Homo sapiens: one gene and its partners. The protein of the gene in region 1 interacts with the protein of each later gene in a pairwise test. Each region holds a gene or a part of one and is shown in the gene's direction. Other genes may lie near its edges.

Region 1 (3,500 bases):
AGCTCAATGCTCAAGAGTTTGCATGGGGAAGTCAGGCCTGAGTTCAAATGATAACTTCTATTTTTTGGCTTGTGCACCTAGGACAAACTGTTGAGCTACTCTAAACTTCAAATTTATTGTATGTTAGTCTAGGATAATAATAAAAGTAGCAACTTTGTAAGGCTGTGAGTTTTACAGGGGAAGTGCATGTAAAGCCCTGAGCACACTGCCTGACCCAGAGTTCTCAGGAAATGCTAGAGAGGAATTAAGCAGGTAATGTGCCCAGTGCCACGTGAATGCTATAGGTAGAAAGTGCTACAGGAGTTGAGAGGAGGAAATGGACACTGTGGTGGAAGAGATGGGAGAGCTCCAGTGGAGAAGGCAGAGTATGCACTAAGCTTAGAAAGAAAAGCAGACCTCAGATTAGGAGGTGAGAAGGCATTCCTGGCACGGCGAGCCAAAGAGCAGCAGAGGAGGACTGTGGATGCCTTGCCTGTAGACTACTTTTGCTGCCACTCTTTGTATATTTATTTTTGCGTATGTGCTCAAACATTTTCCCAAATGCAAATTGAAGATATTCATCTCTAGAGATGCTTATTTTCTCATTTGAAAAAACTGTGCTCCCTCTCTCTTTTCCATGGCTTTTTGCTAAGTCTATATGGCATCTATAATTTTGCTTATGGAGTCAGCTTGATTAAACCATTTTGGGTCAGCATGGAGAAATAGGTTACAAAACTGGCTGTGCATCATGATCACCCAGGGAACTTTTTAGTCCTGCAGATTTCTGTGTCCCACCCGAGATTCTGACTATTGGGTCTGATGTGGGACCAGAGAATATGCATTATTTTAAAAGTTCCTTTAATTTTCATTTGGCTTGGTCAAAAGTTTGAAAAACACTGGTAATCTTTAAGGCCCCACCCAGCTCCAGTGATCTGTATTTCCCATAACAGTAACATTTTTATTCTCTCTGCTATTCTCAAGAGAGGGTTACTGTGTTGTCAAGAGAGAAAAACTAAACAAGCCAGACATCAAAAGCTATAGCTACCAACTTTGATGTGAAGAGTCCTTTCTATATGAAATTGTATAATTCCAAAAAATCCAGGTGGGAGTGTTCCAAGGTCCTTATGCTGACGGGAAGGAAGGACAAACACTGGCCAACTTTATACTTTGTTAAACATGTAAGTCGAGATTTAATAGAGTCTACAACTTCCAAACCAGTGGAAGGGGGAAAATGAAACCAAAGGAAATGAAAAAATAAAAGATCTCAATACGAAAAAAGAGAGGGGGAAAAAAGCGAAACATAGAAAAAAATGAAACAAAGAACAAAATAAGATGCTAGAAGTGAATTCCAATATATTGATAACTAAAATCAGTGCAAATCACGGTACAGTTAAAAAACAGATCAATCTAAACAATATGATGTCTAACATTACATCCGTATATTGGAAAACCATGAGAAAAAGCAAGAAGATGATTAGCCCAAAATGTATGATACGTTTATCTCAACAGGAGAGAGGGCTCCTGGGGTGGGCACCCAGGAAGCTCTAAAGATACGATAGTGTTCTTTGAAGTTTCTTTAAGTTCTTTAAGTTGGGTGGTAAGTAGACAGGTATTCTTATTTTTTTTATTCTTTTAAGCATTATTTTTTAAAGTTCACTATATTTTTTGTAGTTTTGTTTGAATAATATAATACACCCCCCTGGCATGCGTGCATCGCACACACACTCAAAAAAGGATAAAAATAAATTGCCAATGTTTTCCTAAAGCCCCACTCTCATATTATTAGATGTGAATTTTTAATGTGATTTTTTGTTCTTTAATGACGTGATTTTTTTGTCATGAAAGTTTTCTCCCCAGCACAAAACTCTGTTTTGAATTAATCTTGTGACCCAACACTCCAAACAAGTCTTCACATTGATGCTTTTTGTCATAATACGATAATTCCTATATAGTTTCCCTTTTCGTTGAATTACATAAAATAATTCATTCAATTAAAACCTTATAAGCTTTTTATTGAGCAATGATCTTGTGTCAGATGCTGTTTTAATCATTGTATATGAATTAATCCATTTAATTTTTATAAAAACCCTTGGGAATGGTACTAATCCTGCCCTCATTTTAAGCCTGAGGTAACTACAGCACAGAGAAGTTAGGTGATGTGGTCAAAGGCACACAGCCGATCAGTGGAAGAGCCAGGATTGGAACCCAGGCAGCCTGGCACCAGAGCCATGTTCCTGACTTTGTGCTAGGCTGCTCAGCTGTGGCCCGTAAAGCATCTTACTACTGAAGAGAGTGAAGGAGGAGTAGGAGGGTACCTCTGGACTTCAAGGGCCCCTCCGTAGTATGTCATGTCTGACCATAAAGCTACATATATCACAATTACATCATTCTTTGGTTGTTAAAGGAAAGATTTTTTTTTTTTTTTGGCCAGGAAAGGAAGAAAGGGAGGGAGAGATGGAAGGAGGGAAGGAATCCAAAGGAATCCAACAAAAATATTGGCTGATTGGCTGGCCGTGGTGTCAGAAGAGAAATAAAAATCTGCTGATCTCATCTTTATGCTGTTTCCAATGAACAACAAAAGGCAAATGTTCTTCGACAGAACAGCACAAACATACTAGGTGGCTAAACTAGAGAACAGGTACTTCAGAGATGTTGCCTTAAGCAGATGCTCCCCGGCAGTGACCCTGGGAAACAGCTGTTCCAAGCCTCCTCCACCTGGAGGCCAAGATCTCTCTCCAAACACATCTCAGAAGAGATGCACAGTTTATCTAACAGTTCATACTTTGAGGGGGTTTGCTCTATGTTAGCAGTTAAACATAAGTCCTCCCCACGCACCTCCACACCCTAGGCTCTGTAGTCTTGGAGAATTCATAGAGAATGTGGAGATGTCAGGAACATTCAAACAGGTAACTGGACTAATTCTTAAAAGTGAGGGGTGTGTGTGTGTGTGTGTGTGTGTGTGTGTGATAGATCCTGGAAAATATTTATCACTTAGTTGCCTACCAATCTACATAAATCCAGAAGAAAAAAACTAAAAGGAATGTCTTTTGAGTATTTAGCCTCAATGCTCAGACTATGACTGCTGGGAACCAGCAGGGTTCAAAGAAGAGTTTGTGTGATGCCCAGATTACTTTAAAAAAAAAATTCTCAGCATTAACAAATATGAATGAGTGTCCAGAGGTACGCATCTGGGAACTAGTAGATAAAATTCAATATGTGTCTCCTGGAGAAAAGGCTAAAGAAAGACAGAAAGCGTTAACTGTCTTCAAAAACCTGAAGGGCATCACATAGAGAAAGCACAGACTTTTCCTGGGCTATTGCAGAGGATCACACAAAACAAATGGAAGAGTACAACAGGCAGAGTTTGGATGCAAGCCTTCTTTTCAAGTAAATGAAGATATTTATATATTTTTTTGCTTTTTACTTTTTTGGAGATGGAGTCTTGCTCTATTGCCCAGGCTGGAGTGCAGTGGCACAATCTCGGTTCACTGCAACTTCGCCTCCTGGGTTCAAACAATCCT
Region 2 (3,500 bases), on another chromosome or scaffold:
GTTTTATTATATGTTTTATTCCTAGTCATTGAGGAAATAAAAAAAATTGCTTCTTATTCAGCTCTTGGTTTATTGCACAGAAGTGGAAGAAAGATACTCACAATGGAAATATCTTAAAATTTCAAATCCTGCATAGTGAATGCAGCTTGTTCTGGAATAATGAGTATTAACCTGAAATATGAATATTACTTAAATGTTATTTTCTTGGGAAATCAAATCAATAAGCACACTTTGAATAATGAATTGGTGCAATTTTGAATTGTGTATAAAGCAACTTAGGTTTTCTGAAAAATTGTTCCCAAGAAGCAGTTCAAGAATTGCAGTGTTGCTATAATTGGATGTACCCTATATTCACTAGAGGCAAAAGTAGTTTTAGACTACTTTTGGTTACCAGCTGGGATATTTATAATAATCTAGAACATTAAGTGTACAATGAGAAAAAGTATGCCTTCCAGGAAGGGAAGAGTTTCTCATTTAATTAACAGTGTAAAACACCTCTTGACTGTGAGTTGCTGGTAGCACTGATGGTATTAAGAAGGGTCCCAAAATGTTCAACCGTTATACCTAATTTGTGGGATGTGGTGAACTTTCCAGCTTTGCAAAGATGTATATTGATTTTTGTCCAAAATAATATTTTTAATTACATCCATTTATAACCAGGTCATATGCTGGATCAAACTTCCATAACTTTGTAAATATTAATAGGAATTTTCCTTCATACATGAACTGATTTCTCTTTTTGCTTAAACACATATAACTTTTTTTCAGCGCATCTTATCTGTAAGCATTTTATAATGCATCTTTTAAAAAGTTAATGCATACTCGTCTTGTTTAAAAGCAAAATGCCCCAAATTAGAAATTATTATTAACAAAATGCCACATTTAAAGTGGAAAATGTAATATATATAACTAAATATATCAATTTGCACAGAAGGTTTTTATTAATCTTTTCTTCCTTTTTCCTCTCAAGTTATCTGGAAGTATTTTGGATGTGTATAGCGGTGAACAAGGAATTTCACCAATTAACATGGGGCTTACAAGTGCTTCTTGTCCAAGTAGTCTACCAATGAAAAGAGAAATTACAGGTAATGTTGCTTTTATAGTTTTACCCTTTTTATTTTTATTAATGACATAAGTTATGAGTGACATATATTGTGCTAACTAGGATTTTAAAAGTATAACAAAACAGTTACAAAAAAGAAGGCAGACAGTAAATTCATCTTTTCTTTTTATGATAATCAAGCAGTAAGTTAAAATAACTTATAGTTTGACTGAATTGATTCATTATTTTGGAAATTGAGCAAATGCACATATATGTTTTACATACATATATACATGTATATACACACATATATACATACATATATAAAAGACAGCTTCATTTAACATAGGCTCATTTTTATATTAAATAGATGCCATTTATTAACATGGTTACAAAGTGAAATAATAAATTAGAGAAATTAGTCTATTCTTTGTATGCAGAATTTGATAAAAAACAAATATTGGATTTTTTTTTCTTTTTAGCTTGTTTTATGGATTTCATGATAGACTCACATTTAATTTTCTTAATTGAAAATAAACCCTGAGTTTTCAATAGTTTATTTTAATTGTTACAACTCAAATTATAGGAGCATAGTCAAATTCTTCCAAAATAAATGAGGAAATCAACCCAGGGTCAAAGGAGCTACTTTCCTAAAGGTGTAACAGCTGATTACAGGCAGAACTGGATCAACGTAAGGGTTTCCTGACTTCCAAGTCCAGTGTTAGATCCTCCGTAAGAATAAAGTAAATAAATTCACTTGAGATTTCTGCAATAAACTTTTGGTTTGGAGCTCAAACACCACGGTAAAATTTTAAATAAATACAACATGACCACTCTTAAAGCTCAATCAATAATTCAAAAATGTCTATGCATCCAAATTATTCAGACTAAAATTAATGACTATAGTTTTAAATAAATACATTTAAATAAAATGTATTATCTTATTAACTTTTTAAACTATAACTCTAATAATATTGTATTATTTTTGTTGCATAACAACAAATTACCCCTGAAATTTAGCAACTTGAAGTAATAAACATTTATAATCTCAAAGTAATAAACATTTATAATCTCATTCAGTCTTTGAGCATCAAGAATCCAGGAGTGGCCTAGTGAATTCGTTCAGACCAGAATCTCTTATGAGGCTGTAGTCAAGATGTCAGCCAGAAGTACAGACACCTGAGACTTGACTGAGGCTGGAGGATGCACTCCCGAGGTGTTTCACTCAAGTTCTTGTAGGATAGTGCTTCCTGTTGGCAAGTGGTCTTTGTCCCTGACTGCTTGGACTTCTTCATAGGGTTGCTTGAGTGTCCTCATGACATGACAACTAGAGATCAAAGAGATGCCAATGTGAAAGTTAAAAATTTCTCCTATTATCTAGCCTTGGATACCATACTAGTCATTTCCACAACAAGCTAGTGGCTTCACAGGTCAGCCTTATTTATTTAATGTGGGAGGGAATTACAAGGTGTGAATACTACAAATTAAGAATCATTGTAGGCCATCCTGGAGGTTGATGGTCATATAAATACAACCACACCATATATACAGGGAAGTGCCATTTACTGGAAGAAAGTGTGGAAGTGTTTCATATGGATATTTGAGAAATATAGTGAGTTGCAACTCTTGGGATGTAGAAATAATAATTACTAATAAAATATTTAGGTTGGAATAATTTCTGAATCTCAAAATTCTGAAAATAATAATTGAATACTATATTTTCTGTATACTATATTTCTTTTGGTTATCACAATGATTTTAAGGTAGGTATTGTATTATAGTCATTTTACAGATGAAGAGCCTGAAACACAGAGAAGTGTGGCAATAGATCACATGGCTATTAAATGGAGGGCCAGAAAATAAATTCAGTTTTTATTATCCCAGAGCCTAAAAGCTTTGCCATTGCCTTTCACTGAAGAGTACTGTTTTCCAAATTTCTGAATATTTGCATCAAAAATATTATTGTACCGTTTTGGAGCAAATAATATTTTATTTTCACCTAGGAGTTCTGAATTATGTTGCCTGGAGGGGTTTTAAGGTAGAACTAAGCATGGTTTTTATTATTTTTCTTTTGATCAGAAACTGACACTAGAGCTTTAGCAAAAGAGAGACAAAAAAAGGACAACCACAACCTCAGTGAGTATATATTTTTCCATATAAAATTAATGCAAAAGGAAATGCATAGAGGTTAAGGTGTGTGGTCTTTTATTATACTCCATAAGTATTTTCATGTCAGATGGCCAAAATTAATTGCACATATAACTTGATTTATTTTGGGAAATATTAACAATGTGAGCTCTCAGAAAAGCTATCTATTTTCACAAAATGAAACATCTCGAATTCCCTCCTTGATCATTCACTTCCAAGGAGGCTGCCTGTGACTGAGATGAGTGCATTTGGTTACATTTGAATTCTGTTGTGACTCACTGACTCAAAGGTTTAAAGAGATAAAAGTGAC
Region 3 (3,500 bases), on another chromosome or scaffold:
TAAAACAGATACAAGTTCAGTTTTGCTTTTAATTTTTATTTTCATCCTCATAAATTAAGCAGTTTTGTAGCAGAATAATTCAGAAGCAGTAATTGTTAGTTTCTATGCCTAGCCAATATCTACCCTAATTTCACAATAATGGTTTTAGGATTAAATTTTGTGAGATTTTTCCATAATGCTAAACATGTGTTTATTTTTAGTCATACATTTTTAAAGTTCAGGCTCTTAATTAAATATTGACAGTGTAATTTGGTGGAGTATACACATTTTGGCAAACAGTTGGCATTAACTGTATTTGCCAATATTAAATTTAGTAACAGATCAGGCACTTGGCCAGCAGGTGAGGAAAGTTTGGTCATGTAAAAAACTGAATACAGGAGGAGAAAGAAAACCAGATTCGTTAAGCACCCACAATATCAGATCCATTAATTTTTTTATCTCCATAATTCCTCAGTGAAGTTGGTAAGTATTCCTGCTCTACAGGTGGGGAGTCTGAGGTCTAGGTATTTTAGGTAAATTGGCTTGGATTACATGTATGTCTAATAAATCCAGATGGATATTACCACACAGCTTATCTATACTATTTCTAGTAAACTGCATCCTGTGATAAACTTGTAGAGAATCTTACTGTTGTTTTTCTTTATACTCTTCCCTGGTTCCCATAAATCCAAGGATTTAAAGCCTCAAAAAAAACATGCCTTTCGGCCAGGCACGGTGGCTCACGCGTGTAATCCCAGCACTTTGGGAGGCTGAGGCAAGCGGATCACTTGAGGTCAGGAGTTTGAGACCAGACTGTCCAACATGGTGAAACCCCATCTCTACTAAAAAAAAAAAAATAAAAATAAAAAAATAAAGGCCAGGCACGGTGGCTCATGCCTTAATCCCAGCACTTTGAGAGACCAAGGCGGGCAGATCACCTGAGGTCAGGAGTTCGGGACCAGCCTGGCCAACATGGCCAAACCCTGTTTCTACAAAAATACAAAAAAAAATTAGCTGAGCTTGATGGTGGGTGCCTGTAATCCCAGCTACTGGGGAGGCTGAGGCAAGAGAATCACTTGAACCTAGGAGGTGGAGGTTGCAGTGAGCTGAGATCTCGCCATTGCACTCCAGCCTGGATGACAGAACGAGACTCTGTCTCAAAAAAAAAAAAAAAATGCTTTTATGGCTTTATGTTATACTGCCCAAAATGGTGGCCCCAGGTGGCTAATTAAAAGTAAATTAATTAAAATTAGATATAATTAAAAATTGAGTTCCTTAGTAACACTAGCCACATATAAAGTGCTGAGCCCACCATGGCTACCATTTTGGACAGTGCACTTTGTATATTTTCATATTGTGAGACTGGCGTGCCACCTACTGCACTAACAAGGCACCTCTTAGAGTATTTCTGTCTTCCCAGAGAGTTGTTGAAAACAACACTGATTCTAAAGGTCAGAGGAGGAGAAGGAGGAAACTCCATTTATTGAGCTTAGTATCGCTAATTTTCAAACAGCCCTATGAGATTGCCCAAAGCCACATATCTAGTAGGTGGCAACACTAAAAATTAAATCCAGATTTTCATAGCTTCAATCCTTCCCATTGTATTACAACATAGTCTATTCAGTTTCACATGTTTACAGAATCATAAGTTTTGAAGACTCAAACAGCTAGTATAATTTTTAACAATTTTATTTAATATTACTGCAATGGAACTTTACCAAAACAGTGCTTTTATTTTTTTGGAATGGCAAAAAATTATACACTTGACTTTTTGATAGTTTATTTTGCGTTGTTGAACCTTGCAATACTGCTGCTCCCTTATTCCAGGTGGAGTATTCTTTGACATATACCAAAGCTATATTTTTTCCAACTTACCTTTTAAATTCCACTGAAAGAAAAAAGTCACGTAAGAAGAACCCCATGAGATGCCTAATATTTAGGAGGTTGGGGAAAAGAACACATGTACCTTGAAGTGTTTTTCCTCCATTTTAAACTTTATCTTCAATTTGTTCACTTTTATTTAACACTTTAGTTTGCAGAATTGGAAACTCTGTGTTTGCAGAGTTGCATCATAAAAACTGGACCCAATCTTACCTATTTCTTCATGGATGTCCTAAAGTTGCCACTGCCCACCTCTCATCCCAGCTTCTTGCTTTGAAGCCAACTGGCTTTGTTGTTTGGGCTAATGCCCATATGCATCTATTACCTACCAGTAAGATAAAAGGATTAGCTAGGTTTTCTGATGATTTTTTATATTCTGCTCAAATTTCTACTAGTTATTTCTATTATAACTACTTAGTTGGCTCTGAATTCAACATCATCCCGTTGTTTTTAATCTTTGAGGGAATCGTATTTGTGTTAAATCCTAAAGCATATTATAAAAGGATAGCTTGAAACCAGAAGCTGTTATTCAGGGTGGAAGAAAGGAGTAGATTTAATAACATCTGGAATTAGCCATTCAAGTTCTTTTAATTGTTTTTTCAACACTCTGACATAGACCACTCCTTTCCCTGTGCACCCAAGACAGACATGACTGTATAACTCCTGTATTCTTTTGGAGCCTATATCCAGTCTCAGGATCTTTAATAATAGGATTTCAGCTCCATTTTTAAATACTGAGGAAGACTTCCCTGGATTTCATTACAGTAAAAGCTTAAGAGATGAGAAATGGAGTTAACTGAGTCTTCAAAACAGATGTGTTCCTATCCTCATGGAGTTAATAGTCTATTAAGGAAGAGAGGCAGTAAACAAGGATTTCAGTATGTAATTATAATCTGTAATATGCTATAAAAGAAATTAATAGAATGGGAATAGAGGGTAACAAAGGACTTTATTTAGATTAAGTGGCTAAGCAAGGTTACCTTTTTTATGTTAGATTCTCGAGAAAAAGGGCTCGACATTTAAGCAAAAACCTAACAGAGCCAGCCATACAAAGATTGGGTATGAGAATGTTCTGAAGTGAGATTGTTACTATGCTTTCTATACCGAGCAAAGCCATCTAGCAGTAGATCTAGAACTGATCATACTAGAAACCTCTTTAACACTGTTGATTTTCAGATTTTACTTCAGCCTTTATCTGATTAGTATTAACACAATATTTCATTTTCCATCCCTTTTAGTCAATCTGTGTTGTTTTATTTTTCTCACATTAATGACATATAGCTGGATTTTTTCATTTAATATTAGCACTATGTCCTTTAATAGCTTAATTAGTGTATATGTTTTGTGATTACGGGTATATTTAGGTTTATTTCTATCATCTTATTTTGTGATTTCTCTTCACCTTACTTTTCTTTGCCTCTTTTCCCACTATTTTTCCTTCTCTGATTGATTTTTTTATTTCTTCCATTTTCTCTCCTCTACTGATTTGGATGTATTCTATTTCTATCCTTTTAGTGATTTCCTTAAGTTTTTGCTATAGATGACTATCCTATGCTTCTGAACAATATAAGAATTTTAGCCAAACATCATTTTAGTGTCAATTTGAAAAAGCTGCCTCTTTAAGATACTTTACTGACATT
Region 4 (3,500 bases), on another chromosome or scaffold:
AGAAAAAAAAGTAGGAGAATATCTTTGCAACTTGAAAGTAGATGAAGATTTCTGTATCATGACCCAGATTGGCAATGACCATATCAATGACCATAAAATTATTAAATGATAAATTCAACTCTAAGTTAAAAACTTTTATACGTTAAAAGATGCCATTTAGAAAATAAATGGGCAAGCCAGACTGAGAGGATATATTTGGAAAATATATCTGACAAAGGACTGGAATCTAGGAAATATGAAGAACTCCTATAACTCAATAATGAAAGCAAAAACAATGGGCAAAAGATTTGAAGAAATACTTCAGAAAGATAGATACATGGCCAATTAGTACATGAAAATCTTACTGGAAATTACATGAAAAGCTGCTTAATATCATTAGCTGTCTTGGAAATGGAAAAAATTAAAATCACAGTAAAGTAGCACTCCATAAACACCAGTATGGCTAAAATCAAAAAGACAAAAAATGTTAAATATTGGCCAAAATGTGAAACCACTAGAACTCTTGTTTCAATTGTTGAAGCATAAACTAGTATGACCATTTTGGAGAAAGGTCGTGCTGTTTCTTATAAAACTAAATGCATCCCAGTAAGTTACCGTAGAACCCAGCAAATTCCATGCCTAGTTATTTACCCAGTAGAAATTAAAATATATGTCCACAAAAAAATCTAGAACAATATTCTTAGCAGCTTTACTTACTGTCACCCCAAATGGGGAACAATTCAGGTGTTCATTAACAGAAAAATGACTAGACAAATGGTGATTGTATTTGCGCAAACAATAGAATACTTACTACTCAGCAATAAAAAGGAACCAGCTACTAGTACATAAAACAACAAGGTTAAATCTCGAAAGTATTTTATGCTGAGTGAAAGAAGCCTTACACAAAGATGAACTGTATGGTTCCATTTTATGAAGTTCTAGAACAGGCAAAACCAATCTATGGTAGAAAAGGCGTGGTGGTTGCCTCTAGGGCTAGGGGGTAGGCCTTGATCAGGAATGGGGATGGGGGAATTTTCCCAGGTGAGAGTAATGTTTTCTATCTTGAGAGGGTTTTTGGGTTACACAGGTGTGTGCTTTTTGGGGAATCATTGAATGGTGTGCTTCAGAGGTTTGTGCATTGCATTGGATACAAATTTTGCTTCACAAGAAGAAAAGAGAAACTATAAACAAACATGTCACGCTAGTTAATGACATGCATATTGAAGAGTTTGGGGGAAATGTTACTGATTTCTGCAACTTCGAAATGTATCAAAAAAGTAAAATGTGGATAAAGAGAGGAATAGGTGTGATAAAAAAAAAAGTACAGTGAGATGCCAATTGTAGAATCTAGATGGATTTGATATCAAAATTCTTTCAACGTTTCTGTATGTTTGGAAGTTTTTACAGTAAAACATGGGGAGAAAAGGTCTGCTGCTTGTCCATGCCGCAGGTCGCTAATCTCCTGGACAGGTCACTTTATTCGATGTCCCTCTCCAAAACTAGAAGGTTGAACCCGATGTTCTCTCATGCCCGTTCCAGACCTGACATTCTGTGGATGGAAATGAGTTCAGAGAGCACCTGAGCCCAGGGCCTTTGATCAGTTTAAACTGATCATTTGCTGCAGCTCCTTCCTTAACACTCAGTTTTTTTGTATAATGGTTAAGATTATTTACAAACTCGGAGTCAAGACATAGAAACCAGTTTTCACCTGAAAATGAAAACAGGGGATTTGTTTTAAGCAGATAATGCTTTATGCAAAGATAGTTCACCAGATCCACAAGTAGAATTCCCATCAGGCCTCACGTGGGCCTAAACCAGAAAGCAGAAGGCTGTTGAGAGGCCACGAGCACTCTTTCCCTATCTCTTACCATTGCTTCTATCTGGGCATGGCTGCTTTGTTCTTCCTCAGCAGCCAGACTACAAGGTTAGTGGAAAATGACAGCCAATGGCTACCAAGTTCATCTGTTATTTTGACAGCCACACTGCAAGTGTCTGTCATTCTTAGTACCATTCCCAAATTTTCAAAGAGATTTCATTTACGGAGCTTGGTCTAACCCAATATAGCCAGAGGGCAGGGCCATGTATATAAATTCAGCTACCAATAAAGGACTTCTGTGGGCAGCAGGGACGGGTGGTGGTGCTTGTGAGCCTTGCAGACATTCCCAAAGGTGTCTGCTTTTGTCTGAATCATCATTAGCAAGAACGTCCATTTCAAACCAGCAACATCATGAGTTCAATTAGATCATTCACACAGCAGGACCCCAGTCTGACATTCTGGAAACATACCCTGCCTTGTTTGGGGCTACCTCCTTCCAAACTGGGAAGAAAATACCGTACCTAAATTGGGGTCTGGAGAGAGTAACAATGAAGGGAGACAGGTTTATATTATATCCCCCAACAACAACGGTCTTCAAAGAACTGCCTGGTTCTGGACACTGTGGCCCTATTTTAGTTTGCGTAAGAATCACTCGGGGAGCTTGCTAAAAATGTAGCTTCCCCTCCCCTGCACCCAGAGATTCTGATGCAGCAGGGCTAGGATCAGGCCCAGGAAGCTGCATTTGTCATAGGTGCACCAAGTGATTCTGAGGCTCATGGTCCCTGGCTGAACAGTCCACGGAAAACTCCATGTTAGGAAAAATCTCCTGGTTCGCATCACACAGAGATTCCTAGGACCAAATTGTCTTTGAGACTTAGAGGTATATACTGAAAGTTATGACAGTAGAGTAACAAACAGAGAGGCAGACGTTTGGGGACCTAGGAAAAAAATCCCATAGTTCCCAAGTGTCTGCCAGCAGTGGCATCTCAGAAGGTGTAACCCTGTGTCTGGCTCCTCTGAGCACGGGCAGGAATGTCCTTAGCTCTCTGTATCCTTCTGATCCTTTATTCTTTAACTTTTAGGATGGAAAGAGATGCTGCATTTACACAGAAAAAGGCAGAAAGGGCATGCCTCAGAGTTCATCTCAGAGAAAAATACAGGCTCCCAAAGGTAAGACACTCTGGAAACATCTAATCATTTCTTAATTAATGATAAATGGGAAGTCATGGTTGATTATCCACAAAGGATCATGTTCCTGAATATGAATATATATATATATATTCAAGATATATATATATATAAAAATATATATATTCAGGATATGTATATACATATTCAGGATATATATATATTCAGGATATATATATACACATATTCAGGATATATATATATTCAGGAGATATATATATATATATACACACACACATATTCAGGATATATATATATATATGCACACACGTATATCCTAATCATAACTGAAATGTTTGATATAGTGAAAAGAGCACTGAACTAGGAGTTCATAAAAACTTGATTCCAGTTTTTAACTTAACCTCTATGAACTTCCACTGTTGCTAAAAAAAACTGGAGTTAATACCTATAGATGACATTTTAATGTAAACTTATCTAAAGGTTCTAGAACTTCTCTATGTAAATACACAACAAGGACAATAATCATAGCTCACATTGGTTGAGCTCTTTCTAGGTA

Evidence for each region.
Region 2: the proteins of LPAR3 (region 1) and TFEC interact in binary tests that used the Homo sapiens proteins (3 or more experiments, as listed by UniProt).
Region 3: the proteins of LPAR3 (region 1) and PGRMC2 interact in binary tests that used the Homo sapiens proteins (3 or more experiments, as listed by UniProt).
Region 4: the proteins of LPAR3 (region 1) and CPLX4 interact in binary tests that used the Homo sapiens proteins (3 or more experiments, as listed by UniProt).

Annotation. Positions count from the first base shown.
Region 1 is NC_000001.11:84,816,707-84,820,206, reverse strand, and holds part of LPAR3 (lysophosphatidic acid receptor 3), read left to right. Parts: intron 1-3,500. UniProt on the Homo sapiens protein: Receptor for lysophosphatidic acid (LPA), a mediator of diverse cellular activities. May play a role in the development of ovarian cancer. Seems to be coupled to the G(i)/G(o) and G(q) families of heteromeric G proteins.
Region 2 is NC_000007.14:115,954,264-115,957,763, reverse strand, and holds part of TFEC (transcription factor EC), read left to right. Parts: intron 1-970; coding exon 971-1,085; intron 1,086-3,121; coding exon 3,122-3,178; intron 3,179-3,500. UniProt on the Homo sapiens protein: Transcriptional regulator that acts as a repressor or an activator. Acts as a transcriptional repressor on minimal promoter containing element F (that includes an E-box sequence). Binds to element F in an E-box sequence-specific manner.
Region 3 is NC_000004.12:128,281,314-128,284,813, reverse strand, and holds part of PGRMC2 (membrane-associated progesterone receptor component 2), read left to right. Parts: intron 1-3,500. UniProt on the Homo sapiens protein: Required for the maintenance of uterine histoarchitecture and normal female reproductive lifespan. May serve as a universal non-classical progesterone receptor in the uterus.
Region 4 is NC_000018.10:59,312,150-59,315,649, reverse strand, and holds part of CPLX4 (complexin-4), read left to right. Parts: intron 1-2,877; coding exon 2,878-2,965; intron 2,966-3,500.